7 linked regions of the Homo sapiens genome follow. The protein of the gene in region 2 purifies or fractionates together with the protein of the main gene of each other region. This does not show direct contact. Each region holds a gene or a part of one and is shown on either strand. Other genes may lie near its edges. The genes, in order: SLC2A6, SLC30A6, NUP155, SPECC1L, C12orf43, SLC34A3 and ZNF239.

Evidence for each region.
Region 1: the proteins of SLC30A6 (region 2) and SLC2A6 purify together in Homo sapiens (affinity purification with mass spectrometry; one large-scale study listed by BioGRID and IntAct). This does not show direct contact.
Region 3: the proteins of SLC30A6 (region 2) and NUP155 purify together in Homo sapiens (affinity purification with mass spectrometry; one large-scale study listed by BioGRID and IntAct). This does not show direct contact.
Region 4: the proteins of SLC30A6 (region 2) and SPECC1L purify together in Homo sapiens (affinity purification with mass spectrometry; 2 studies listed by BioGRID and IntAct, with this or other methods). This does not show direct contact.
Region 5: the proteins of SLC30A6 (region 2) and C12orf43 purify together in Homo sapiens (affinity purification with mass spectrometry; 2 studies listed by BioGRID and IntAct, with this or other methods). This does not show direct contact.
Region 6: the proteins of SLC30A6 (region 2) and SLC34A3 purify together in Homo sapiens (affinity purification with mass spectrometry; one large-scale study listed by BioGRID and IntAct). This does not show direct contact.
Region 7: the proteins of SLC30A6 (region 2) and ZNF239 purify together in Homo sapiens (affinity purification with mass spectrometry; one large-scale study listed by BioGRID and IntAct). This does not show direct contact.

The regions. Positions count from the first base shown.
Region 1 is NC_000009.12:133,476,300-133,480,397, forward strand, and holds the start of SLC2A6 (solute carrier family 2, facilitated glucose transporter member 6), read right to left. Parts: upstream 2,801-4,098; 5' UTR 2,761-2,800; coding exon 2,669-2,760; intron 2,118-2,668; coding exon 1,955-2,117; intron 943-1,954; coding exon 736-942; intron 124-735; exon of another isoform or gene 38-123; coding exon 1-37. UniProt on the Homo sapiens protein: Probable sugar transporter that acts as a regulator of glycolysis in macrophages. Does not transport glucose.
Region 2 is NC_000002.12:32,193,364-32,196,863, reverse strand, and holds part of SLC30A6 (zinc transporter 6), read right to left. Parts: intron 2,976-3,500; coding exon 2,881-2,975; intron 1-2,880. UniProt on the Homo sapiens protein: Has probably no intrinsic transporter activity but together with SLC30A5 forms a functional zinc ion:proton antiporter heterodimer, mediating zinc entry into the lumen of organelles along the secretory pathway.
Region 3 is NC_000005.10:37,368,307-37,372,366, reverse strand, and holds the start of NUP155 (nuclear pore complex protein Nup155), read left to right. Parts: upstream 1-1,260; 5' UTR 1,261-1,389; coding exon 1,390-1,546; exon of another isoform or gene 1,547-1,701; intron 1,702-4,060.
Region 4 is NC_000022.11:24,416,035-24,418,238, reverse strand, and holds the end of SPECC1L (cytospin-A), read right to left. Parts: 3' UTR 501-2,204; downstream 1-500. UniProt on the Homo sapiens protein: Involved in cytokinesis and spindle organization. May play a role in actin cytoskeleton organization and microtubule stabilization and hence required for proper cell adhesion and migration.
Region 5 is NC_000012.12:121,003,237-121,006,487, reverse strand, and holds part of C12orf43 (protein CUSTOS), read left to right. Parts: intron 1-93; coding exon 94-167; intron 168-1,394; coding exon 1,395-1,485; intron 1,486-1,995; coding exon of another isoform or gene 1,996-1,998; coding exon 1,999-2,335; 3' UTR 2,336-3,251. UniProt on the Homo sapiens protein: Plays a role in the regulation of Wnt signaling pathway during early development.
Region 6 is NC_000009.12:137,229,505-137,233,700, reverse strand, and holds the start of SLC34A3 (sodium-dependent phosphate transport protein 2C), read right to left. Parts: upstream 2,801-4,196; 5' UTR 2,763-2,800; exon of another isoform or gene 2,622-2,762; intron 2,499-2,621; exon of another isoform or gene 2,038-2,498; 5' UTR 1,999-2,037; coding exon 1,914-1,998; intron 1,729-1,913; coding exon of another isoform or gene 1,630-1,728; coding exon 1,540-1,629; intron 1,127-1,539; coding exon 998-1,126; intron 918-997; coding exon 774-917; intron 698-773; coding exon 586-697; intron 493-585; coding exon 297-492; intron 69-296; coding exon 1-68. UniProt on the Homo sapiens protein: Involved in actively transporting phosphate into cells via Na(+) cotransport in the renal brush border membrane. The cotransport has a Na(+):Pi stoichiometry of 2:1 and is electroneutral.
Region 7 is NC_000010.11:43,557,617-43,561,116, forward strand, and holds part of ZNF239 (zinc finger protein 239), read right to left. Parts: intron 556-3,500; coding exon of another isoform or gene 464-555; coding exon 1-463. UniProt on the Homo sapiens protein: May be involved in transcriptional regulation.

The sequences.
Region 1 (4,098 bases), on a different chromosome or scaffold from region 2:
CACGAACGCCTGGGGGAGCAATCTCAGACACGTACACCTGCAAGACACAGCCGCCGCACCAGGTTTTGCTGAAAATACTGGTTCCTAGGCCCGGCCGAGATGGGAGAGTCAGCCCCTGTGAACCCCGGAAAGTGGGAAGTGGAGGCTTTCTGGTGGGGCTGAGTCCTGGTCATGACTCACTGCAAGACCTTGGGCGGCCTGCCTGATCTCTCTCTGTCCTCAGTTTCCCTAACTGTGACGTGGGTGGAAGTACGCAGCTCGGAAATGGGCAGCATGACGCTGGGAAGGAGGCCCGAGGGCTCCCAGGCTTCAGGGCTGAGCAGGTGAGTCCATGCCTCCCAGTGAGTTTTGTCTCCTCTGCTGGGCTCACCACCAGGCCCCGTGTGGAGTACCACATAAGATAAGAAGGTCCCGGGGAGGGTGTAGGGCAGGGACTTCCCTCTCCTACCCATTGCTCAATGCGGATTTTCTCCAATTGAGTAATACATCTGACCGGTCAAGAAACGGGGTAGAAGGCTTGGAAAGTCCAGAGTGGGGGCAGCTGGGGACCTGGAGACAATTTCCCCCAAATTAGCTGCCCTGCTGGGGGTGAGCTGAGGCGCCCTGGGCATCCGCAGGGAAGGCAAACAATTCTCATTGCCCAGAAGGCATGGAGGCTGGGAGGCCTTAGTCAGATGGAGGCTCAGCACCAATACAGAGGCATTGGGGCGCCTGGGTGGGAAGGCCTGGCCTTACCGGGATGCAGGCAGCTGTGAGCCCCCCGGCGAAGCCCGTCAGCGTCCTTCCGAGCAGCAGCATCCAGAGGCCGTGCGCACCCGCCATGAGCGCATAGCCGGCCGCCGACGGCACAGCTGAGAACATGATGCTCAGCTTCCGGCCCAGGAGGTCGTTGAGGATCATGGCACTCAGGCCTCCGGCCGCTGCTCCCAGGGTGAACACGGACTGCAGGGGAAGGGGGTGCAGGGCAGATATGTCTGGGCACTTGGCACCCCAATCTCATCAGAGTCCAGGGACAGCTTCTTCCCTAGGCCGACCCCAGGAGCTGGTCAAGCACTTGGCCAAGTCAAGCACTTGAAACAGGGAGCCTCCTGTCTTCAAGGAACAGCCATTTGTTAGGGATGCCCAAACGGGGAATTCTGCTCTAAGGAAGAGGTGCTGCGCCACATATCCACAGTGGTTCTGTCCAGCCTGATGTTTAAATGTCTAATATTTTAATACAGGAGAATTCTGTGACTTGAAGGTACTGGGCTTTAAGATTTGGAGGTTCTTAAGTTCCCTGTACAGCAGCAACTGGGACCCCCTCTGGACTCTGCTAACTGGTAGTGGGACCTGGGCACATTGCCCAGCCTGTCTGCACCTCAGTTTCTTCAGCTGTCTTATGGGGAGAGCGCAAGTTCTACCTCGTGGCGTTGGCCCTGAGAATCAATGAACGTTCAGTGCCCAACACATGCCTGGCACATAGGAAGTGCTCAGTAAACCTTGGGAATTTTTATCTTAACTACTATGTTAACAACTCTACATATGAGGCTATTAAGATTATAATTTTAGACTCTGGGACTCTGGGATCTTCCTCTCCATCAGCCCACAATCTGTCCTGCGGACTCTCCTTGCCCCAGCCAGTGCCTCTCCCCACTGACACCTGATACCCTTGCCCCCATCCAGCCAACTGTGGGTGTGGGGACCCGGGGAAGCCTCAGCCCCACCTAGTATAGACCCTGACAGCCACCTCCCCACCTGCTCCTTCCCTCACCCTCTCCACTGGCTTTCAGTTCCTCATTTCAGAGGAATCCTGTAGCTTTACCCCACCCACTAGTGGCCTGGATGGCTGGGGGAGGGGGGACCAGGGCCCTGGAGGGACCCCCAAGGTGGAGAATTTGGGAGGTTCCTAGCTGGAGATAAGGCTCAGCAGGTCCCTCCTTCCTGCACCCACCCTCCTCCAGAGGATGGTCCTTACCCCAAACCAGGATGCCTGGGATTTGGTCAGATGCAGGTCAGGATCCAAGGAGCGCTCCAGGGCTGGGATGACAGGGGATGTGTAGACCAGGGCATACCCAAAGCTGAAATTGCCGAGCACTGCGGCGAAGGTGGCCAGGAACACCCTTTTGTTCTGCAGGGTCCTGGTGATGGTGGCGGACAAAAAGACCAGGGTCTCTGAGTCCCTCCTCCAGGGACCATTGCCTTTTCTGAACCCAGTGGCTGCCCGGCTCAGCGGGCAGTGCTAGGGAGGCCTGGGTCCAAGGCCATTCACGTTCCCAGGGCCTGAGCCCCAGCTCCCCTGGGAAATTCCCAGGCCATTGTTAGCTCATCCGCAGTGGCTGAGCCTCTGGTGCTGGGGCCTTTTCTCCGGAAGAGGAGGCTCTGGTTCTGCCCCCAGGGCGGCGGCTGGAGGCTTGCTGTGTGACCTCAGGCAGAACCCCTGCTCGCTGGGGCCTCAGTCTCACTGTCTGTGGCAGTGGGGGGCTGGGCCCGGTACTCTCGTGGATCGTTCCTTCCCTTAGGGGGACCAGTTCCTTAAATAGGAGTAGCGTGTCTGGGACAGGAGGGAGCCAGATGGCCCCTCGGTGGCGACTAGGTCAGGGGAGGCCCAGGGCGGGAGCCTGCCGCCGGCTGGAGGGAACCAGGGCCACCCCCAGGCCCCACCCGCAGCCCCCAACCTAGCGACTCTCACCCGACCCGCGCCCTGTCCCCTGGCGACGGGGGCGGCTTCTCGGGGAAGGTGTCGTAGTCCGGGCCCTCGGCTCCCAGCAGCGGCTCCTGCATGGCCGGGTCTCTCTCGGGGCGAGCGGAGGGCGCTCAGACTGGAGCAGCCGCCCGGGGCCAGCAGCTCCGAGGGCACCGGCCAGGCTCCGCCCCTTGGCCGCTATTGGCTGTGGGACGGCCCTGCAGAGACACGCCGGCCAATGGGGCGGCCGCAGGCTGTCCTGATGCTCGGATGCGGACCCGGCTTCCCCGGGCGCGGCCGGCACCGCGTGCGCCCCCGAAGGTCACGCCCCAAGACAGGATGGGGGTCCCAGGGCGGAGCCCCTGCTGGATCGTCCGGGGCCCCCGCGGAGCGCCGGAAGCGGCTCACCCGGCCCGGCTCTTGCAGGCGTGACTGCGGCAATGCGCGCAGCCCCTGTCGTACTCGCTCCCGCGGGGTGGAAACCGAGGCCCAGAGAGGCGAAGCCGAGCGCCAGGGTCACAGCGAATGCGCACCTCGCTCCTCCTTACGCTCTAGCCCTCCCCGTCGCGTGGCGTCTCAGGGCCACCTCTGCCCTGGCTCTCCCTGGCACCAGGGAATCGGGGTGTGTCAGGGCAGCAGCGGATGTGCGGGACGAAGGAGGCAGGAGGGGCCGGCGAGGCGCTGTGGGCAGCTCCAGTGGGCGAGGTCTGTATCCTCCACCCCAGGCTCTGGTGGTAGAAATAACCTGAGCTCGTGACACGTAACCCAGGTAGTAAGATAACATTGAAAAATAAGAAAAGCAGAAATGGAAAATTCCCGGGAAGACCGTCCTCAAAAAATCCCACAGCAGTTCCACCTCTCCCTTTGGGCCTTTTCGGGAAGAGGACGGAATCACGCCCTGCTCTGTTGGATGGACGTGCCACACACGCTTTTAAACGGAGCCTTTGTTGCTGAGTATTTGGGTCATTTCCCATTTTAGCTATTAACATGGTAAAGCATTTTTAAAAGTTAGAATTCCCTTTTATTATGATTGAAATACAACCATAATAGAACAATAAAATCACATCCATCTCCCGTCAGCCTGACCTTGATGGCGTTTTAGCCTCTTCCAGTCTTTTCCTCATGTGCCTATTTTGCATATTTGCTATTGGGGCCCCCATTAAACTGTGCAGCCCCTTTACGTCACCGTTTTCTTGCCATCAAGATCATAGGCTTTGGACTCAGGCACACCCTGGTATGGTGATCAGGCTGCACAGTCCTCGTGGCCATATATATACGTATATACATATATATGTGTATGTATTTTTACATATCTATATGTGTATTTTTTTTTTTTTTTTTGAGACGGAGTCTCGCTCTGTTGGCCAGGCTGGAGTGCAGTGGCACGATCTCAGCTTACTGCAACTTCCACCTCCCGAGTTCAAGCGATTCTCCTG
Region 2 (3,500 bases):
GTCTTGAACTCCTGACCTCAGGTGATCCACCTGCCTCGGCCTCCCAAAGTGCTGGGATTACAGGTGTGAGCCACCATGCCCAGCAGTTCTTTATACTTTTAAGCAGAGCTTCCTAACTAGTGTGCTGAGAACGGGCCATAGGTACAGGCTGAGGATCCCAAATCTGAAAACCAAAAATCCACAACTTTGAGCACCAACATGATACTCAAAGGAAATGCTCATAGGAGCGTTTCGAATTTTAAATTTTCAGGTTTGGGATGCTCAACCCATACATATAATGCAAACACTCCGAAATCTAAGACAATCTAAAATGTGAAACACTTCTGGCCCCAAGCATTTCAGATAAGGGATATTCAAACTACATACAAATTAATTCCCTCAACTCTCAAAAAAGCCAGGTGAGAACCTGGGTACCTACCTGGCTAGAATTAAATAGGTTATTCTATGTAAAGTATTTAGCAGTGCTTGGCATATAGAAAGTACTTAATATTATTTCCCACTCAAATTTCAAGTAATTTCACAAATCTTTTTTCTTTTTTTTTTGTTTTGAGATGGAGTTTCACTTTTGTCACCCAGGCAGGAGTGCAATGACGTGATCTCGGCTCACTGCAACCTCCGCCTACCGGGTTCAAGGGATTCTCCTGCCTCAGCCTCCCAAGTAGCTGGGATCACAGGCGCCTGCCACCATGCCCGGCTAATTTTTATAATTTTTTAGTAGAGACAGGGTTTTGCCATGTTGGCCAGGCCGGTCTCAAACTGCTGACCTTGTGATCCGCCTGACTTGGTCTCCCAAACTGCTGGGATTACAGGTGTGAGCCACCAGACCCAGCCTTCATTTTTTTTTAAAGCCAGAGTCTTGCTATGTTTCCCAGGCTGAACTCAAACTCCTGAACTCAAGCAATACAACCACCTCAGCCTCCTGAGTAGCTGGGACTAGAGGCACATGCTACCAAGCCCAGCTAATGTCACAAATCTTGATGTTTCTGGGAACCTCCATTTCCAGCTAATGAAAATATAAAGTAGGCTGGGAGCAGTGGCTCACGCCTGTCGTCCCAGCACTTTGGGAGGCTGATGTGAGAGGACTGCTTGAGCCCAGGAGTTTGAGACCAGCCTGGGTAACACAGGTAGACTTTGTCTCTATTAAAAAATAAATAAATAAATAAATATAATATAATATAATAAAAATATAAACTAGATAACTTTTCTGGAAATAAATTTGGCAATATACAACAAAGCCTTTGAAAAATACTGTATTTTTAATCCAGTAAATAATTCCTTCTCGGGGAATTTATCCTACAGAAAGAATAAAAAATGCAGACGAAGTTGATCTAAAGAGGCTGATTATAGAGTTATTTATAAAAGGAAAAGTTAGAAATGTATAAAATATTTTAAAATATTCATAACAATATTATGCAAACATTAAAAAATCATTTACATTCAAAGAGTATTTAATGAGAAGCAATACTGAAGACATAATGCTAATCAAAAAGCCAGACATGGCCGGACGCAGTGGCTCACACCTGTAATCCCGGCACTTTGGGAGGCCAAGGTGGACAGATCACCTGAGGTCAGGAGTGAGACCAGCCTGGCCAACATGGGGAAACCCCGTCTCTGCTAAAAATACAAAAATCAGCCAGGCATGGTGGCACATTCCTGTAACCCCTTGAACCAAGGAGGCAGAGGTTGCAGTGAGCCAAGATTGCGCCACTGCACTCCAGCCTGGGCAAGAGAGTGAGACTCCGTTTCAAAAAAAAAAAAAAAAAAGCCAGGCATAAAACTGTAATATATACAATTCTAAGTAAGCACATAAAATTATATGTACGTGTGCATACAAAAAAGTGGAAGGAATAACATAGAAATGTTAACATATTATCTGTGGGTCATAAGATTATCAGTAGTCTTATTTCCTTCTTGTATCTCCCTGATCTTTACAGGGAAACAGTGTTTCTAAATCTTTGCACCATCTTAAAAATTTCTAGAGTAAGTGTTATAGTATTTTATAAATTATGAATTTTTTTCAAGAAATTCTAGTGATCTTAATTATCATTATTTAATTTTCTAATTCATGCAGTACTTCTTTAACTCATACAAACACAATTTATCTTCATAACATTCATGAAGTTGTTTAAACTTGAATGGGCATTTCAGAAAACTTTCTTCTCTTGACTATCCTAGAGTGAGATCTAAAAAGATCCACACCTATCTGTGCTTCTCTATACTTCAAAGTGTGGGTCTGTGCACACATCCCACTTCTATTTTCACCTCACTTCTCCATCTCTTAGTGGCTAACTCTTTTGTGGGTTAGTGGGATTCCAAAACACTGAAATTATTGAAAAAAGAAAATAATTTAGACTGCAAAAGTGAAAAATCAGTCTGAAGTTGTAAATACTTCAAAATAAAAGAATATTTCCAAAGAAATAAAGTTTGGCTACTTGCAAACATATATGCCCATCCACCATTGCCAAAGAGAAGTTCCTGGGAACTTACTTTATTAACAGAATACAATTATTTTCAATTAGCATATCAACTAAGAATTCTAAGTATACTGATACTTCTAAAATGCTTACAATAGACTTTTCTTAGATAGATTACACATTTAGAATCTCACATTATTTGGTAAATGTAATTTTTCATCACCACATGATTTAATTTACAGGTCACTCCTGCCTGTTTTAAAATAATTTGTTATTTTAAAGCTTGAACTAATGAGATTTTGTTTTATAATTTTCCACTTAAAAAAGACTTGAGAACATTTGGGCTAGTTCTCTCTTGTCTTCAGAATATACTTCTTCATTGATCTGAGTGAACGAAACAAACAAAAGGCTTGTTTTTATGAGAGATTAGTTGGATTTTTAAATTAATAGTAAATAAAAAACATACCTTCTGAGACATAAGCAAAAGGTTTATTCCGAATAGAAAGCATCGTGAACAGGTTGAAACAAAGAGCCACAAAAGTACCAACTAATAATCTTCCCCTAAAAAGAACAACGATAACATTCACCTTTAATTTGTTCTTGGTATTATCAGTATGTAATTTCAATACGTAGAGGGACTAAGAGGTGGGAAGGTAAAGTGGTCTGCTTTAATGATTTGGTGTTTCCAGATACAGAATCTGAACTTAGTTACTAGCCCCATCACCCATGTCCCATCTACTGTTGCTCCATCTTACAAAGGATAAGTAAGGACTTTTAGCATTAACAGTATCTTGCTACAGGTAAACGCTGTTATAAATCTGTATAAATATCAATGGTATTTGTTTTACGATATACTGGACAAGTCAGACTTTGTGGAATTAAACTGATCAGAATAGATAAGGTCCATATAGTTGGCAGCTCTGTGGTTGAGAAATACAATTGTTTTTTCATATATATGATACATACAATTCTCTTTTCATATATATATGAAAATCACATAGTTGCAATATATATGAAACATATATACGTTTCTTTTTTTTGGAGACAGGGTCTCACTCTGTTGTCCAGGTTGGTCTTGAACTCCTG
Region 3 (4,060 bases), on a different chromosome or scaffold from region 2:
CCAAATAAAGTAAACTCACAGCTAGAGACCCAACTGCCTATCTATATACCAATGATAAAAAATCCAGTTTTTCTTGGTATATTGGCTATGTCAAATTTTAAGTGTAGATTGGTAACATCAAAGAACTTTCAATTTTCAGAAATGTAGTCAAGTCTTTGAGGGAGTAAAAATGTAATTCAAATAGCAAAAGACCAATTTAGAGTAATTCAGTTATTGATTTGTGAAATTCTGAAGAACATAACTGGAAGCTTTCTTAGGTGAGATTCTAAATAAGAGCAGCTTTCTAAAAAGTGCTTTGATTTACCCACTCAGGTTGCCTTCTGTAGTAAATGAAGCCTCTTTTACCTCTCTGCTTTCTCCTATCCTGCTATAGTTTATACCTATCCAAATAGAAAAATTATAATGAAGCCCTTTGTCTCTGCTTGAAGCACCTTAAGGACAGGAAACACTGTGTTAGTTTGATAGTCCCAGCACCAGGCACAAGGCAAGTATTCAGTTTCTTAGGATTGTATGAACTCTTGGGTTCCTATCTCATACGAGTTCCTATACTAGCGCTGGGAATGGAAAGATGAATTAGAACTGTCTGCTATCTCTGCCACGATAAAAAGCACGGCAGCGGTCCACCTGCACTCAGCTTCTTCTTAAACACGTATTTTATACTAAGGGGCAACAAAGTCAAAAGACAGCGACACGCAAATGGAAAAGCCTGATGAATTCTAATTTACACTGAAGCCCGCGAAGAATATAGTGAGATACTGGTTTATATCCCTCTCTGTGACAGCGACCTACCAATTCTTAACTACTCTCACAAAAGCAGTTACTTGGAGAACCAAACTGCGCGCTCATGCGCGAACTCATATAGCTGCAGTTAGCGGATACCGACGCGGGAAGTTCCAAGACTCAGGTCGAGCACGCGCTTAAACCAACGGAACCTGACCAACCTCCTAGGCCAGACACACGACCTAGCTCCCACCTACCGTATCCCTCCTCCCTCCTTCCTCCTCACCCTATCCAACCCCATCCCGCCCCTCTCCTTCCCTGTTCCCTCCCCTTTATCCTTCCCTTCCTTTCCCTCCCTCCCTTCCCTAAATAACCTACCCTAATTTTACCCTGCCACACCCCAAAACCCTCAACCCCCTCGAAAGCATCAGCAGCCTCCTAGCTCCACCCACAACCTCTAGCCCCCTCCCAACAGCTTCCTCTTCCCAGGCCAGAACGGCGTCTTCCAGTTCCCCACCGGATGAAGCGGAAGTGCGTCATGTCGAGGCGCCAAGGCGCTCGTTTGGCGCGCGCGCCCTAGGCGGCGGATCTAAGCTAACTTCTTGGATCTTTTCTTGTTTCTCCTTGGTTTTTGACTTTTTCTGGACCCTGGTGTCTACGATTTCCGAGATGCCGTCTTCTTTGTTGGGCGCGGCGATGCCGGCCTCTACATCTGCCGCAGCCCTGCAGGAAGCTCTGGAAAATGCTGGACGGCTCATCGACCGTCAGTTGCAAGAGGACCGCATGTACCCGGACCTTTCCGAGCTGCTTATGGTGTCTGCCCCAAGTGAGTGATAGTGACCCTGCTTTCTCAACCTAAAGGACTCTCGCCTGACTTCCTAATTTGCTACTTATCCCCAGCGTTGGTCCCGGCGAGGATATGCTGAGATTTATGGCACTGTTGGCTGCATTTTTGGAGAACAGCAAGCAGCTTCTTTTCAGGTTTTTTCCTTTCCTCACTTTCTTCATTGTAGATACTTGAGAGGGCAAGAGTGAAGAGCAAGCTCCCAGTTGAAGCAGAAAGAGGCAAAGACCTCAACCTTAATGAGCTTCTCGCCGCTCTCAAGTGCTTATGGCTAAGGCCATATGAGAAGCATCTCCAGATCCAAGTCCCAAATTTGTTCATTTCTCCTGTTAGTGTTTGAGTAGATCGTAAGAGCAAACGAAGTTAATTTGGAAATTTAGCATGTTATCTTAAAGATACGCTTTGCTTTATATTTATTTGTTTATTTATTGAGACGGAGCGGTTCCCTCTTCGCCCAGGCTGAAGTGCAATGGCGCGATCTCGGCTCATTGCAACCTCCGCCTCCTGGGTTCAAGCGATTCTTCTGCCTCAGACTCCCAAGTAGCTGAGATTACAGGCGCCTGCCACCAAGCCCGGCTAATTTTTGTGTTTTTTAAGTAGAGACGGGGTTTCACCATATTGGCCTGGCTGGTCACGAACTCTGACCTCAAGTGATCCGCCCGCCTCGGCCTCCCAAAGTGCTGGGATTACAGGCGCAAGCCACTGCACCCGGCCAAGAAACGCTTTATTATGTGTAGAGATGTGTGTTATGAAATGCTGGAGGATCTTAAAAGAACTACCAGTGGAATAAAGAAAGAGAACAGGGAAATCACAGTGCTTATGTACAGGGAGAGTAAGGCAGAATATGTGTTGACAATATAGGTGACTGGAAAGTAATTTGTTTAACAGTTTTAAGTTATAACCAGCTCCCCACGGCTTATGGAATTACATCAGTTGCTAGAAAAAGTGACCCCTTTGTGAGATGGAATTTGGAGAAAACCAGCGAAGTGTAAGAAAGAAAAGATTGTTGGTGAGCAAGAACCAAAGTAATCTAAATAGGATAATTTGTGCAGTGTAAACCGAGAACACTTCTGATTATTTATAAAAATCATTGATAGCTTTGTAATCAAAGAAATGATAGAAACAAAGATAGTATTTGCTCCCTACAGCTACTTACCAATGAGCGTGTCTTATAATACCTGATTGGCCTATTAGCAATTATCATCTTGAACAACATTACTCATTTTGGCCTCCTTAGGTGTGAAAACAAGATATAAAAACAGTGCATGCATTCTGGTCCTTCTCTTACATATCTCATGCCTTTACACACACCTTCCTCTTTCACCCAGTCTCTTCCCCTTCTTTTCCATCCAATTTTTCATCCGTTGCTCTGATTACAGAGAATTTAGCATATTTTCCGTAAGAAGCCCCATCTTCAGGATTTCCTCAGGATTTTATCTTACTTTTATTGTTTCTGCAATGTTCTTTTTTTGCCTGACAAACTTTTTCCAGACTCCCTGTGAAAGTCCTTAGTTTCTCTTTGTTGTCTTTCTTTTTCTTGTTCTTTTTTTTTGAGTCAAGGTCTAGTTCTGTTACCAGGCTGGAGTGCAGTGGCATGATCACAGCTCATTGCAGCCTCTAACTCATGAGCTCAAGTGGTCCTCCCGCCTTGCCCTCCCCAGTAGCTGGGACTACAGGCGCCTGCCACCACACCCAGCTAATTTTTAATTTTTATGTAGAGACGTAGTCTCACTCTGTTACAAGGCTGGTCTCAAATTCCTGGCATCAAGCAGTCCTCCTACCTCAGCCTTCCAAAGTGCTGAGATTACAGATGTAAGTCACACTCCTGGCCTGAAGTCTTTCGTAGCATTCCCATCCTCACTAAAGTTATCGATTCCTCCCTCTGTGTTCCCACTGCCATTTAACATGGTGATCTGCCACCTTCGGCCTATTAAAGTTATGTTTTAGGATTAAATGGGATGTCTGGATTTGCTTTATTTATTTATTTTTTGAGACAGAGTCTTACTGTCACCCAGCCTGGAGTGCAGTTGGCATAATCTTGGCTCACTACGGCCTCCACCTCCCAGGTTCAAGCGATGCTCCTGCCTCAGCCTCCTGAGTAGCTGGGATCATAGGTGTTCGCCACTGGCTCATTTTTCTATTTTTAGTAGAGACAGGGTTTCACCGTGTTGGCCAGGTTGGTCTTGATCTCCTGACCTCATGTGATCCGCCCGCCTCGGCCTCCCAAAGTGTTGGGATTACAGGTGTCACCCACTGTGCCCAGCCTGGATTTGCTTTAATATGAATTCAGCCCAATAGTCTCAGCACTTTGGGAGGCCAAAGTGGGCAGATTACTTGAGCCCAGAAGTTTGAGACCAGTCTTGGCAATATGGCAAAACCCAGCCTCTTAAAGAAAAGAAATACAATAATACAAAAATTAGCTTGGCATGGTGACACACACTTGGACCCCCAGCTACTTGGGAGGCTGAGGTGGGAGGATAACTTGAGACGGGGAGG
Region 4 (2,204 bases), on a different chromosome or scaffold from region 2:
GGTGCAGCTCCCAAGCACTTGCAGGTCACAGTGCAACTCCTGGCTTACTCAGGGCCAAGGCAGTTGCTGGGCTCCCAACCCTGAGGAGTCTCCACCTGGGAAGGGCATTCACTACATGCCCTCGTGTGCAGGAAGCACCACCACCATGGGCCTTTTGCATGTGACGTGGACAAGGTGGTAAGTGTTCTCCAGGCCAGCTCAGTGCATTCACAATCACTGTAGTGACTCACACCTGTAATCCCAAGGCTCTGGGAGGCCAAGGCGAGAGGATTGCTTCAGCCCAGAAGTGCAAGACCAGCTTGGGCAACATGGCGAAAAGCCCATTTCTACCAAAAAAAAAAAAAGAAAAAATAAATAAACAAACTGCTGGAGATGGTGGCACACACCTGTGGTCCCAGCTACTCAGGAGGCTGAGGTGGGAGGATTGCTGGAGCCCTGGAGGTTAAGGCTGTGGTGAGCCGTGATCGACCCCGTCTCGAAAAAACCAACAAAAAACAATGCACAGGCAAAAAAGTTTATCTGGTTGCCTCTGGGTAGGATACCTTTTTTCTTTTTCTCTATTTTATACATCCTGACAATTATTTCCAAGATGATACATGCCTCAAAACAAACAAAACCCCTCGAGACACACTCCCCAGCCCCCAGGGAAGGCATGTGTCTGGGCTGTGTAGGGGCTTCCGCTCTCCTGGGGGTAGCTCTGCCACGGTCTCTGGGGTCTTGGCATCTGTCACAGAACCCTAGTGGTTACAGGGCTCACTGTCCCACAGCCCCAGGCCACACGGTGATGTGCTGTGGCCCAGGGGAGGCCACCCTGGACTCCTGGTCAGGATCTGCCCACATGAGGAAGTGCGCCTTGGGGTAGGGCCACAGGCTGGCTCAGAGGTGCCCTTCTCTCCACAGCCAGTCCCAGGAGGGAGCTGGGTTCTGGTTTATGCGACGTCAGAGGGACGGCAGGGAGTGGAGGGCAAGCTAGAAAAGCCCAAGCTTGTTGTTTCAGCCATTTTAATACATTCAAGAATATTTACTAGAACAACATTTAAACGTATCGTCGGTCCGCAGAAGCCTGGGATCGAGAGAAATAGAAACGCGACTGGCCCTTTTGCAGTAAAGCTTGTGCTTGAAGGGAGAAGAGGCAAAGTGGCTTCTTGGAGACTTCGTGCCAGATGCCACAGGACTGAGAGCATCTCCAAATGTCACTTTAAACACGTGTGAGCATCTATAGTCATTCCTAAAGCCCACAGTGTCCTAAGGATCCTATTAGACGAGGCAAAAGGCAATGCTTCTGGAACCCTCTCCCTTGCAGCTCTGCACGCAAACCTTCCCCAAGGAGGGGCCCGAGGCAAGCCTCTAGATAGGCGGGGCCAAGCCCTCCCCGTGCCCACCCTCTTTCCCTGTTGCTGACCTCAGGCCTGATGCTGGACCCATGAGACTCCCAGAGGGAAAACACAGATACAGCCCATCCATCCATGGCCACCTTCCTCCAGAAGATCCTGGGGACCCCTACCCCCCCATCCCATGAGGCACCAGGGCTGGGCTCGCATGGCCAGCAAGGGATAAAGTTGGGAACTGCAGACCAGGGGAAGCCCCCTCATTCTTAGGGCAAAACAGCCCCTGAAGGACAAAATAAATAAACCAAACCATGACCAGACAGCTGGATCCGGACAGGTGGAGTGGCCTCTGTGAAGGCAAATGAGAGCAAAAGTGGGAACTGAGGACACCTAAGTGGAGAGACACTTAAAAACAGTAATTCTCACATGAACATCAGTGGCTCATGCCAACAGCAGAGCTGGCCATCAACAGAGGAACAGCAACAAAAACACAACTCAGACAGGGGGCGGGACGGGGCCAGGAGTCTGCGGGGGTCTCTGATATGCTTTGTGGCATGACTTTGCTTGCCTGGCCTCTCCTTTCTTAGCTGAAAACAGGCATTTCACCAAAGGGCATCCAGCCAGCGGCAGCAGCCTGAGCTCCCAGGCTGACATCTGGGCAGGGCTGATGGGCAGCTTCTGGCCATCTGGTGACCAGGTGTGCCGCCAGCTGCACCCACATGCACAGCCCCTTTCCTAATAACCACATTCTAGGTTACGTAGACACGTTAAACTCCTATTCTAGAACATCGTGCTTGAATGCAGACCCCTCAGCCCACAATCGGGCTGGCTGGGCCTCCTGTGAGCCCCTCATTGCATCCAGTCTGTGGGGCAGTG
Region 5 (3,251 bases), on a different chromosome or scaffold from region 2:
TCACATACCCCATCCCCTCCACTTGAAAAAGAATTTTGTTTTTGTCGTTATCCAAAAATCTCATCTTAAATCAACCGTCTCGTCTCCCTGTAGCTTCATTACCATCTCAGAAGCAGCAAAGGAGCCAGCAAAAGCTAAGGTACAGAAAGTCGCTTTGGAGGATGATGGTGAGTGGTTATACTTAATAGAAGCTATCATTTATTAAGCACCTAATGTGTGTCTGGAGGTGGGCGAAACAGTTTTGGTATATTCTTTTTTTTTTTTCTTTTTTTGAGATAGGAACTCTCTCTGCCACCTAGGCTGGAGTGCAGTGGAGCAATTATAGCTCAATGCAGCCTCAACCTCCCGGACCCAAGCAGTCCTCCCACCTCAGCTTCCTGAGTAGCTGGGACCACAGACACACACCACCACCCCTGGCTAATTATTTATGTTTTTTAGAGACAGGATCTCGCTATGTTGCCCAGGCTGGTCTTGAACTCCTGGCCTCAAGCCATCTGCCCACCTTAGCCTTCCAAAGTTCTGGGACTACAGGCGTGCACCACCACACCTGGCTAATTTTTGTATTTTTTTTTAGAGACAGGGTTCTGTCATGTTGCCCAGGCTGGTCTTAAACTCCTGGCCTCAAGCTATCCTCCCGCCTCAGACTACCAAAGTACTGGGGTTACAGGCATGGGCCACCTCACCATTCTTTCATCTGCTCAGCCCCTGTGGTGAGGCAGGTATTATGATTGAACCCCATGTACAGACAAGGAGACTGAGGCCCTGAGAAACGAAGTCATTTGCCTGAGGCGGCCTCGTCTGTGTCACCCTGAGCAGGAGCACTTTACTGCTGCCCTCCACAGCCTCGCCCATCTGCGTCTGTCCTGTACCAACACATTTGCCACTTTGAAGGCTGCCTTAGGTCAGGAGCTCAAGTGCTGACTTCCAGAAGCCTCTGAGGGCTTGCTGAGCTGATGTGGCTGCTGGCTCCTGCTCCAGCGCGCCCTCCACTGGCTCCATCAGGCATCAGCATGACCCTTGGCAGATGCAGAATCACTTTGTAGTTAGACGACTGATTCCTGGGTCTTTGCCTCTGGACCAGGAGCTCCTGAGGGCAGAGGCGGGGCAGCTTCAGCACCTGGCACCTGGGAGGAGGGGCTGGCATCTGGGGGTGCTGACTCTGCTCCTTTGTTTTTTTTGTTTGTTTGCTTGGTTGGGTTTTTTTGTTATTGTTTCTTTTTTAAATTTTTTTATTTTGTGTCTTCTTAAAATTTTTTTTTTGTTTCTCTTTATCTTTTCTTTCTTTCGTTTTCCTTTTTAAAATTTTTTTCTTTTTTGTTTCTTTATTTTTTATTTTTTTATGTTTCTTTTTGTTTTGTTTTGTTTTTGTTTGACTCTGCCCCATTGAATCTTAGGTTTCCGCCTTTTCTTCACATCTGTCCCTGGAGGCCGTGAGAAGGAAGAGTCTCCCCAACCCCGCCGAAAGCGACAGCCCTCCAGCTCCAGGTGAGAACTCACACCTCTCCTCACGTCCCCTCCTTTTTTCTCCTCTTCTGTCTTGGTGGGTTCCCTGGAATAGCCAAGCAGACTCCAGTCAGGACCAGGCCAAGGCAGTGGCCCTGTCAGGCAGCTGGAGAAATCATGAGCTCAGCGGGAGGGAAAGCCCTCTTGGCGGCAGCTTTGGATGTTTACTGCTTTTGAGCACCTGTCTTGGGCCAGACACCTCACTTGATCATAGTTGCCTCCTGGGACATCCCTGGGAGGCCTGGACTCTGTTAAGATCCCCGTTTTAGAGATGATACAGTCAGAGAGGTTAAGTCACTTAAGGAGGTCACAAGGCTGCTACGCCCAGAAGCCAGTATTGGAAGCCAGGTTGGCCTCACTCCCAAGCCTGAACTCACTACCTGCCTCTCTCTGCGGCCACCTTCTGGTGACCTGGACCAAGGGAGGACAGCGAGAGGCAGCTCTGGGGCTGTGTCCTGACTCCAGCTAACCCAGGGTACCCTCTCGTTGCAGCAGTGAGGACAGTGACGAGGAGTGGCGGCGGTGCCGGGAGGCAGCTGTGTCGGCGTCCGACATCCTACAGGAGTCAGCCATCCACAGCCCTGGAACAGTGGAGAAGGAGGCAAAGAAGAAAAGGAAGTTGAAAAAGAAAGCCAAGAAGGTGGCCAGTGTCGACTCGGCTGTCGCTGCCACCACCCCCACCAGCATGGCCACAGTCCAGAAGCAGAAGTCAGGTGAGCTCAACGGGGACCAGGTGTCGCTTGGGACCAAAAAGAAGAAAAAGGCAAAGAAGGCCAGCGAGACCTCTCCATTCCCACCAGCAAAGAGTGCTACAGCTATACCTGCAAACTGAACCCAGCCATGGGCACAGGGCTCAGCCAGCTCCAAGGACAAGGTGTCCCCCCCACCCTGGGGACAAGGCATTTCCAAGCCCCACCTCCCTCTCCAAGTTCAAGGACTGGGCTGGCAAACCCAGACTGCCCATGAGACCCTGATGGTGATGAAGGCTTGCTCGAGAGTTGGGCCAAAAAAGTGGCTGTAGGGTGAGAAGACCAATCAAGGCCTGCCCCTCTGTGCTCCCACGGAGGGCTGGCGGGGGCGCTGTGGTTCCAGAACATTTCATGACCTCAGGAAAAAAGGAACCTTCCAGTTATTTGAGACTAGTGGCCAAGTGGTGAAACCTCCATCTCCCTAGAACTGTCTGAGGTGGGCAGGGGAAGGGAGACCTTCCCCACCACCTCCTTAGCCTGGTGTGAGAAACAGTTTTTAGAAAATGAGAGAAGGGATCCCCAAGAGGCCAAGGCCCAGAGAAACTTTTGTTCTTCTCTCCTTAGCCCACATAGACTTCACAGAATCGTCTGAGAAAGGAGAGCTTTTTCACCCCTGGCTTTCTAGAATTTTCTTTGTCTGCATTTGTGAATATACCACACATGATGGTGTCTCTGAGCCGACCAGATTATGGAAACTCAATTGTCAGAGGACCCAAAACAAAACTTAGAGTGATTTGGATATTGCCTCTCTGTCAATGCTGAACCTTAAGACATTTTAAGTAAACATCCTCCTCCTCTCTACACCCCCAGGATTTGTGCGTTCACCCCACCCAAGACTTCAGGAAGTGTCATAGCACTCGTGGACTAGGTTTCATGGGACAAAGGCATTCTGCAAGAAGTAGAAGCTTGTGGCCGGGTGCAGTGGCTCATGCCTGTAATCCAAGCATTTTGAGAGGCCAAGGAGGTGGATCAATTGAGGCCAGGAGTTTGAGACCAGCC
Region 6 (4,196 bases), on a different chromosome or scaffold from region 2:
CAGTGCTTAATGAGACTGCTGTTAGTGGCGTTGCCTGTGGCACTGCTCATGATCATGTCGGAGTCCAACTGGGGGCCAGAGGGGTCGTGACGGTGTGCTGCACCCTCTCTCAGGACTCACCCGGGGCTCTGGCGCCCGCGGGGTCCAGCCCAGCCCTGCCCACTGCTGCCCTCTCCTCCCCTGTCCCAGGACAGGGCCCAGACCCTCCGCTGACCCTCCATCAGGGCAGGGCGGGCCTCCCCTCCTCCCATCCGGCCTGCTCAGGCTCTCTGGGCGGGGGCGGTGGCCGTCCTCACCTGCACGATGAGGTGTGTGAGCGGCTTCGTCAGCACCTTGAGGATGTCGGGCGCCTGCGCCCTGGGTGTCAGGCTGGCGGCACCCAGGGCTAGCTCACTTAGCCTCTCCAGCAGGGCCGTGGCGCTCTCCAGTGGCAGCAGGACCAGCACTGTGAGCCAGTTGAAGATCCCGTGCACCGCCGAGCCGCTGAAAGCCCTGTGGCCGCAGAGAGTGGGCAGGGTCAGGTGGGGGGGCCCGGGCTGGGGCTGCCACTGCAGCCCCAGCCCAGCCCTTCCACCCACAACTCACCTCTGAAATTCATCCCGGTCCCCTGACTGCGCCATTGAGACCAGGGTGCTGGTGATGGATGTGCCTACGTTGACACCCATGATGATGGGCACAGACACCCGGACAGTCAGCACTGCTGGTGGGGGGGCTGAGTCAGCCTGCGGCCCACCCTGCCCCCCCCACCACCCGGGGAGGGAGTGTGCACCCACGCTTAGCAGCCACCATGCTGACCACGATGGAGGAGGACGTGCTGGAACTCTGCACCAGGGCTGTGACCAGCACGCCAATGACCAGTCCAGCCACAGGGTTGGACAGCACCACGTTGTCCTTGAAGATGTCTCCGGCCACTTTGCCTACACCGGCAAGAGAGGTGCGCTGAAGCTGCGGAGGGCTGGTTGCCCGCCCCGCCCTGGGCACCCGTCCCGTCACTCACTGCCCAGCAGCTGGAAGGCGGAGCTGAGGACGTCCAGAGAGCAGATGAAGAAGTACAGGCTGCCGAGGAGCCCGCAGGCCTTGAGGACGCTGCCGGCCACGCGGCGCAGCCTGCCGGCCACGCGGAGCTCTGAGGACACAGGGCAGGCTGTCCCTGGCTGGCCCTCCACCCTGACAGGTCTCCCTCCCAGGCCCCTCATTCTCTGCCCCCTCTCTCCTCTGTCTCCAACAGGGCTGGGTCCCATTTCCTCCTCTTCCGTAACCCCCAGGGCAGGGCCCGGGTTCCTGCCTTTCCAAGCCAGAAGCCCTTGGGACCCTCCCTCGCAGGAGCAGGAGGGGAGGGACGGATGGGCAGAGGTGGCCGGTCTGCCCCAGGACAGCACAGACACCCGGTTGAGGGACACGTGTCTCCCCAGAGGGGGCCTGCATGGCGGAGTTCCCCACACACAGCCTGTTTGGGCAGGCCCCACCCTGCTCTGTCTCCCCAGTCCCGTTGGGGACAGAGGCCTGCCAGCCTGCCACCCCCGGAACCTCCAGACCCACCTTTCCAGGGCTGGCTTGTGTCCTTCAGCTGAGGGAGGGTCCAGGGGTCTGTGTCCCCTTCCTCCAAGACTGGAGCAGAACTGGAGGTCCCTGTGGAGGTAGAATTGAGTACGGCTGTTTCCAGGACCACCTCCCTCCAACTGGGGGCACAAGGGCACAGGCCGGAGGACGGGCTGAGGCGTAAGAGGCCTGGAGTGAGGGACAGAAACGGAACGGGGAAGATGGGGCTCCAGCTGGGCTGGACCTGAGTGGAGGCGTCATGAGCCCTGTGGGTTCCCCGGGAGGCCCGCAGGAAACCTGGCCTGTCTCTGCCCAGTGCCTGGGGGGTGGGTGGTCAGACTGGTGAAGGCCTGGGGCACAGGGGCCACTGGTACCTTCATTCCTCAGAGTCTTTTCCACTAGGTCAACCGCGTCCAGAGTGGGGTGGGGGACCTGGCTGCCGGGAAGGGAACTCGGCATGGATTTCGGGCAGGGACAGACCCAGGCCCAGGTCTAGATCTGCTGGGGGGGACGCGCGTGTCAGAGACATTTCCTCCTGCCCCGGCCCTGTCCTCACAAGCTGGATTCACACCCCTGGGTCCCCTGAATTGAGCCCTTGGCCGCCACCCTCCCTCTCTACGCCCTGCAGGCCTCAGTGACCATCCCCCTTTCTCCATCCACAGGGGGATGGCTACAATGACCTCAGGCAGTTGTCAGGCGAGCCCAGTCCAGTTTCAGGGGTAGACTCGAAGGGGCTCCAGCTCCCCGGCTCCCTTGCTGGTCCTGACTGGAAGGCTAGTGCCGAGGGTGCAGGCCATGAGCTGGGGAACCTGGGGACCTCCCCTATCTGGTGTCATCGGGGACACTGTGGATGGTCCCGACTTAGACTTTGGCATTTGATACTAAACAGTGACGTCTCGGCTTGATAAGGGCCCCACGCCCTGGTGATGGGGAGCAGGTGGGGTCCTCACACCACTTCAAGGCTCCTGGCCCCGAAGCTGCTGCCTTAGCCTCCTGGGCCTGGTCACCCCACCCCTGGGGCCCCCCACCTGGACCCCTCCACCTAGTGCCCTGGGCTCAGGTCCAGGCGTCCTGTGCCTCACCCTCCCTCCTGCTGCCCAAGCCTGGCGTCTCTTGCCCTTGGGTCCTGGAGACTCAGGATGGGGCCCAAGCCCTTGGCCTGGAGGCCACCCAGCCTCGGCCTCACTGTCCCTGGGCCTCAGCCTGGTCCTAGGAGCTCCTACCTGTGTGGGTGGTGAGGGGGCACCTGCAGGGAGGAGACACGGGGCGGGAGCAGTTGCAGGTCAAAGATCCCCTGATCGCGCACATGACCTGCTGGGTACTGAGCCCATTAATGTTTACCCAGGAGCCCAGGCCCTCACGGGGGTACCCTCCTGGCCCCAAGGCCCCTAGGCCTTGTCTCCATCCTGTCACTCTGTGGCTAGGACCTCCAAGCCCCAGCCCAACCCTCCTGGAGTGGGGCTCCTCCCAGGGGTGGGCTCTGAATCAGGCCGAGGGCACTGCGGGGCGGGGCACCGGCCCTCGGTACTGGGCATCCTCAGCAGGCATCCGTGTGACCCAAGAGACACACTCCACCCAGCCAGGCAGGATGCTAGAGTATGGCTGGGGCTGCCCGGGAGTCGAGAGACGCCAGTCCCCCACTTCCATGCACCTCAGGGCTCCCCAGACCTTCTCAGGGTCATCCCTGCCCTCGGCAGAGCAGGGGAGGGAAGCCCTTTGCACCAGGTGGTGGGGGAGGACGGGCTTTTTCACGTAGCCGGGGAGGGCACCCAGCCCGAGGTCAGAGGGTTCAGATCCGGGTTCAGGGCAGGGTTGGGCCCAGCAGGCTGCTAGCGGGCTCGGCCCTGGTATAGCCAGCGACGGCGGCCGGCAGCCTCCATCTGCAGAGGGGAGGACAGAGCTCCCCAGGCCACCTTCCCCACCCGCTGCCTGGCCCAGCGCACAGTTCTCCCCAGCGGAGTCCCAGCTGGCCCCACCGCCTGTGGGGTGTCCCCTAGGAGGACTGGGCCTCTTCCTGCCCTGGGGTGCGGGGCAGCTCCCCCAGAGGCTCACCCTGCCCAGGGGCTGCTGGTGCCCTGCTTTGCTTGCTGCCCAGCCCCCGCTGTGTGCATGGGGACTTTGCCCTGGAGAAGGTAGAAGCTTCTGAGTGTCCGCTCAGCAAATTCTCTTCCGTCTCCCTCCTGCGCCCTTGCTCTGGGGGTGGGGGGCAGCAGTCCTTCCCTGGGGCTCCTGAGTGACAGCTCGTTCCAGTGGGGGTGGGGGTGTTGCAGCACTGACTTGGTGGTAACTGCTGTCCACAGTCTGGCCCCAGCCCCAGCCCCGGCCCCTCAAAAGGGTCTGTGTGGTGGCTGCTCGGAGCCAGGAAAGGTTCAGCGAAGGATGAGACCAACTGGGCTGTGAGACCTCAAGCAGGCCCCAGCCCTCTGTTGGCCTCAGGCAGGCCCCGCCGAGGCATCCCCTTCAATGCCTGTATGGCTTCGTGCCTACACGAGACCCTCCCAGAACCGCACCCGACACACAGTGGGAACTCCATGAGCTTTGTTGAGTGGGTGAATTCACAGGGCTGCCATGCAGGGCAGGGAGGAAGGAGGTAGTCTTGCCACCCTCCCGGTACACCCCGGGGACGTCTGTGGGAGAGGGGAGACCTGCTCTGGGCA
Region 7 (3,500 bases), on a different chromosome or scaffold from region 2:
TGCAGTTACAGTCAATGGGATCCAAAGATTCTTTTAACTGGCCATTCTGGCAAGTTGCCTCACCATTTAACAATGGCGAGGCCAGTTCTTGTCCATCAGACACCAGTTTAACTTGAAGGTTCTCTGAACAACTTTCCCCCTTTATCACTTTTCTCTCAGTGCTTTCTTCCATTACAAAGAGACGTCTGCTTTCCTGATGATCCTGAGGCTCATTCTTACAGAACTTCACTGAAGAGTCTTGTGTGTCTATTTGGCTTGAGACTTTCAAAGGCAAATATGTTTCACTTTCAATGTTTTCGAAACAACCACTTTGAAGAGTCATCACACTGTCCCTGTTTCTGGAAATAGGAGAAGATGCTTCTCCCCACTGTTGACAAGGGGAAATATCTAGTTCAGGCTCCCCATCCACTTCCCCTCGATGATTCACAATACAATCCTGACTTCCAGTAATTGTACTGGCCATGCCTTCCAAAACTAGCCAGGAGGAAAGCTCATGTAACAGATCCTGAAGTGTTTTCTGCTGAAGATTCTCCACAGAATTTTCATTCAAGTCTCCTAGGGAACAAAGACAATTCAGTGGTAAGAACAAAGGGTAGACTTCAAGATTTCAGAGTGAGAGTGCCTAAGGCCTGAAGTCTTAGTAACTAGGAAAAAGTTCAGCTTGTCTTTATAGTCATGTCCTTTGGGTTAAGGTCAGGTACATTTGTATCTGGGTACAAGACAGAAATTTTCTCTTGGCTTTTAAGCATAGCCAAGGAAAGTCTTCCCTAACTAATCCTATAGAAGGCTGTAAGTCCTATATCCTTGCTAACAATAACATTTCATCTCATCTCACTTCATTTTTTTTTTTGAGACAGAGTTTCACTCTGCTGCCCAGGCTGGAGTGCCGTGGTGTGATCTGGTCTCACTGTAGCCTCCACCTCCCAGGTTCAAGCAATTTTCCCACCTCAGCCTCCCAAGTAGCTGGGATTATAGGCACATGCCATCATGCCCAGCTAATTTTTGTATTTTTAGTAGAGGTGTGGTTTTTCCATGTTGACCAGGCTGGCCTCCAACTCCTGGCCTCAAGTGATCCATCCGCGTCAGCCTCCCAAAGTGCTGGGATTACAGGCATGAGTCACCACACCCGGCCTACTTTCCTTTAAGTAAATTTGCATTTAATTGGTATTCTGCTTTCATAGGTGTGGGGAATACAAGGAAGAAAATATAAATCCTTTTGCTTAACAAGCTAAAGCTTCCTGGGAAGACAAATACACCAAATAATGATAATACTAAGTGAGTGGTGTAGATGAATGTATAGTACAATACAGTACAAGAGATGTATGCCTAACCAGCCACGAAAGCACAGCAGAGGAACACTCAACTCAGACCCTGGTGTTTAGGAAGATTTCTGGGAGAAAATGACAGGAAAAACAAAAAACAAACAAAAAAAAGGAAGTGAAATGTGGAGAGAAAATATGACATGTTAAAGAAAACTACAAGCGGCTTCTTACGAAGGAGATAAAAACAGTAAGAGTGGTGAAGAATGTGCCACGGAGGGGAAGTAAGAGGACAGAGCAAAGGGCTTAGTGTCTAATAATAAGGACCTTGGGGCTAAACCCTGAAGGGATTGAAAACTATTAAAGAATTTTAATTCAGAGTGAAATGACTGACTTTGTGACAATAAACACCACTGGAAAGCAAGACTTTAGGTAGCGAGACGGCTGCCATAGCAAATCAGAAGAAAAACGGTAAGGATGATAGTTGTGGAGAGAATAGGAGAAATTCATTCTAGATCATGTGATGATAAACTAAACCTAGAAGAGAAAGGAGGCACCAAGCCTGTTCCTTGGGATTCCTGCCTGAGTGACGGTATGGTGGTGCTATATAATCAGATAGGAAATGCAACAGGAAGAGGCTGAAGTAGGGAAGGCAGCAGAACTGCCTTGTATAATCTGTGGTGTTGGTGGAACATTCTTGCAGTACTGGTCCGTAAGCTGTGAGATATATATAGGTCTGGAACTCCTGTGAGAGAACTGTGCTAGGAATACAGAGTTTAGACTTACTGGTATATTAAAAAACAAAAACAAAAACAAAACCCTCCCCGAGACTTAAACAATTAGAGTGAATAGCCTAATATTACACTGAAATGACAAGAAATCCATAATACTCTTGGGAAAACAGAAAGGCTGATATCATCAGAATAAAAACATTGAGGAACTCCTAAATGATAAGGAGCAGATGGATTAGGAGTGATGGAGGAACTAGGGGAAAAAAATGTACAGCTCAAATTATGTATAACAGAAGGCTTCTTCGTGGGTAAAACATCCTAAGAAATCATAGAAATTCAATTACCAAACTCAGAATCAATAATTACAAAGTAAGGGAGCACTGACCCCATTTCTCTGGAGTCTATGTCTCAGAAAATAATAAACAATGATAAAGTAAGACATTTCCTAATTCAACTTAGGCATTCCTAACAGCTGTGCTAGTTTTTGCTGTTAGCAGCACTCTCCCAGCCCACCCTCTTCCTCTTAGAAATAGAAATATTGGATGGCTAGCAGCAGTGCCCTCATATAAAGCCTCAAGAATAAAATAAATGATCTGCCAAAGAAAGACTGCTAATAATATTAACTGGACTGAAGAGAGAAGCAGAGGTTGAGGTAATGTTGAACGTACACAATGACCAATGGATTAAGGTACAAAAAAGAAGTAATTGACAACATAAGTGCCCAGGATAAAACTTCAAGCTAAACTTTTTAATGGGAGTTCTGACAAGGAAGATAGCCCAGCGCTGGAAATAAAGAAGCAGGGCATGCCCCAGATAACTCAGTGGCAAAAGAGGTGGACTTAAAAAATGGCCTACACCACTGTGCAGGGGAGTACAGGGAATAGGAGGCCCACCTGAGGCTCAGCCCTAGCCCTTAGCCCATCCGTGGGGCCAGTTTACTGCCTGGGTAGTCCCCTTGCCCATGTATCCAGCTACAAAACAATTCAAATTTTTTCTTTTTCCCAAAATAAAACCTCAGCTAGCTCTGCCAACTGTCAAAAAAAAAAAAAAAAAAAAAAAAAAGGCCTATAATATCCACCATCTGGATTCTTATTACCTCCCTCCCTAGCCCAATCAGCAGAAGTGTCCCCTAAAGTAAAACACATATGCATGCCAAAGTGGGTCAAGCATGGGTTGAGGACACACTCCAATATCATGCTGAGAACACAAGAATTTTGAAAAAATATATAAGGAGACCAACAGAATTTAAAAGGTACATAATTAAAATCCCAGAAAAACTGGAGAGGATATCACATTTAAACACAATCTAATAATAAAATATAAACATATTGCTATGAAAAATAATAATTCTAAATAAAATGACTGAAGATGATGATAGGTTATGTCACTTGTTTCCTAGATATGTGTCAGGCTGTTTTAGTCAAACGCCTGCAATCTAGATGAGTTAAATAGTAAAATGAACACATGGCTAAGATGGAAGATTGAGGAATTCTCCAAGAATGCAAATGAA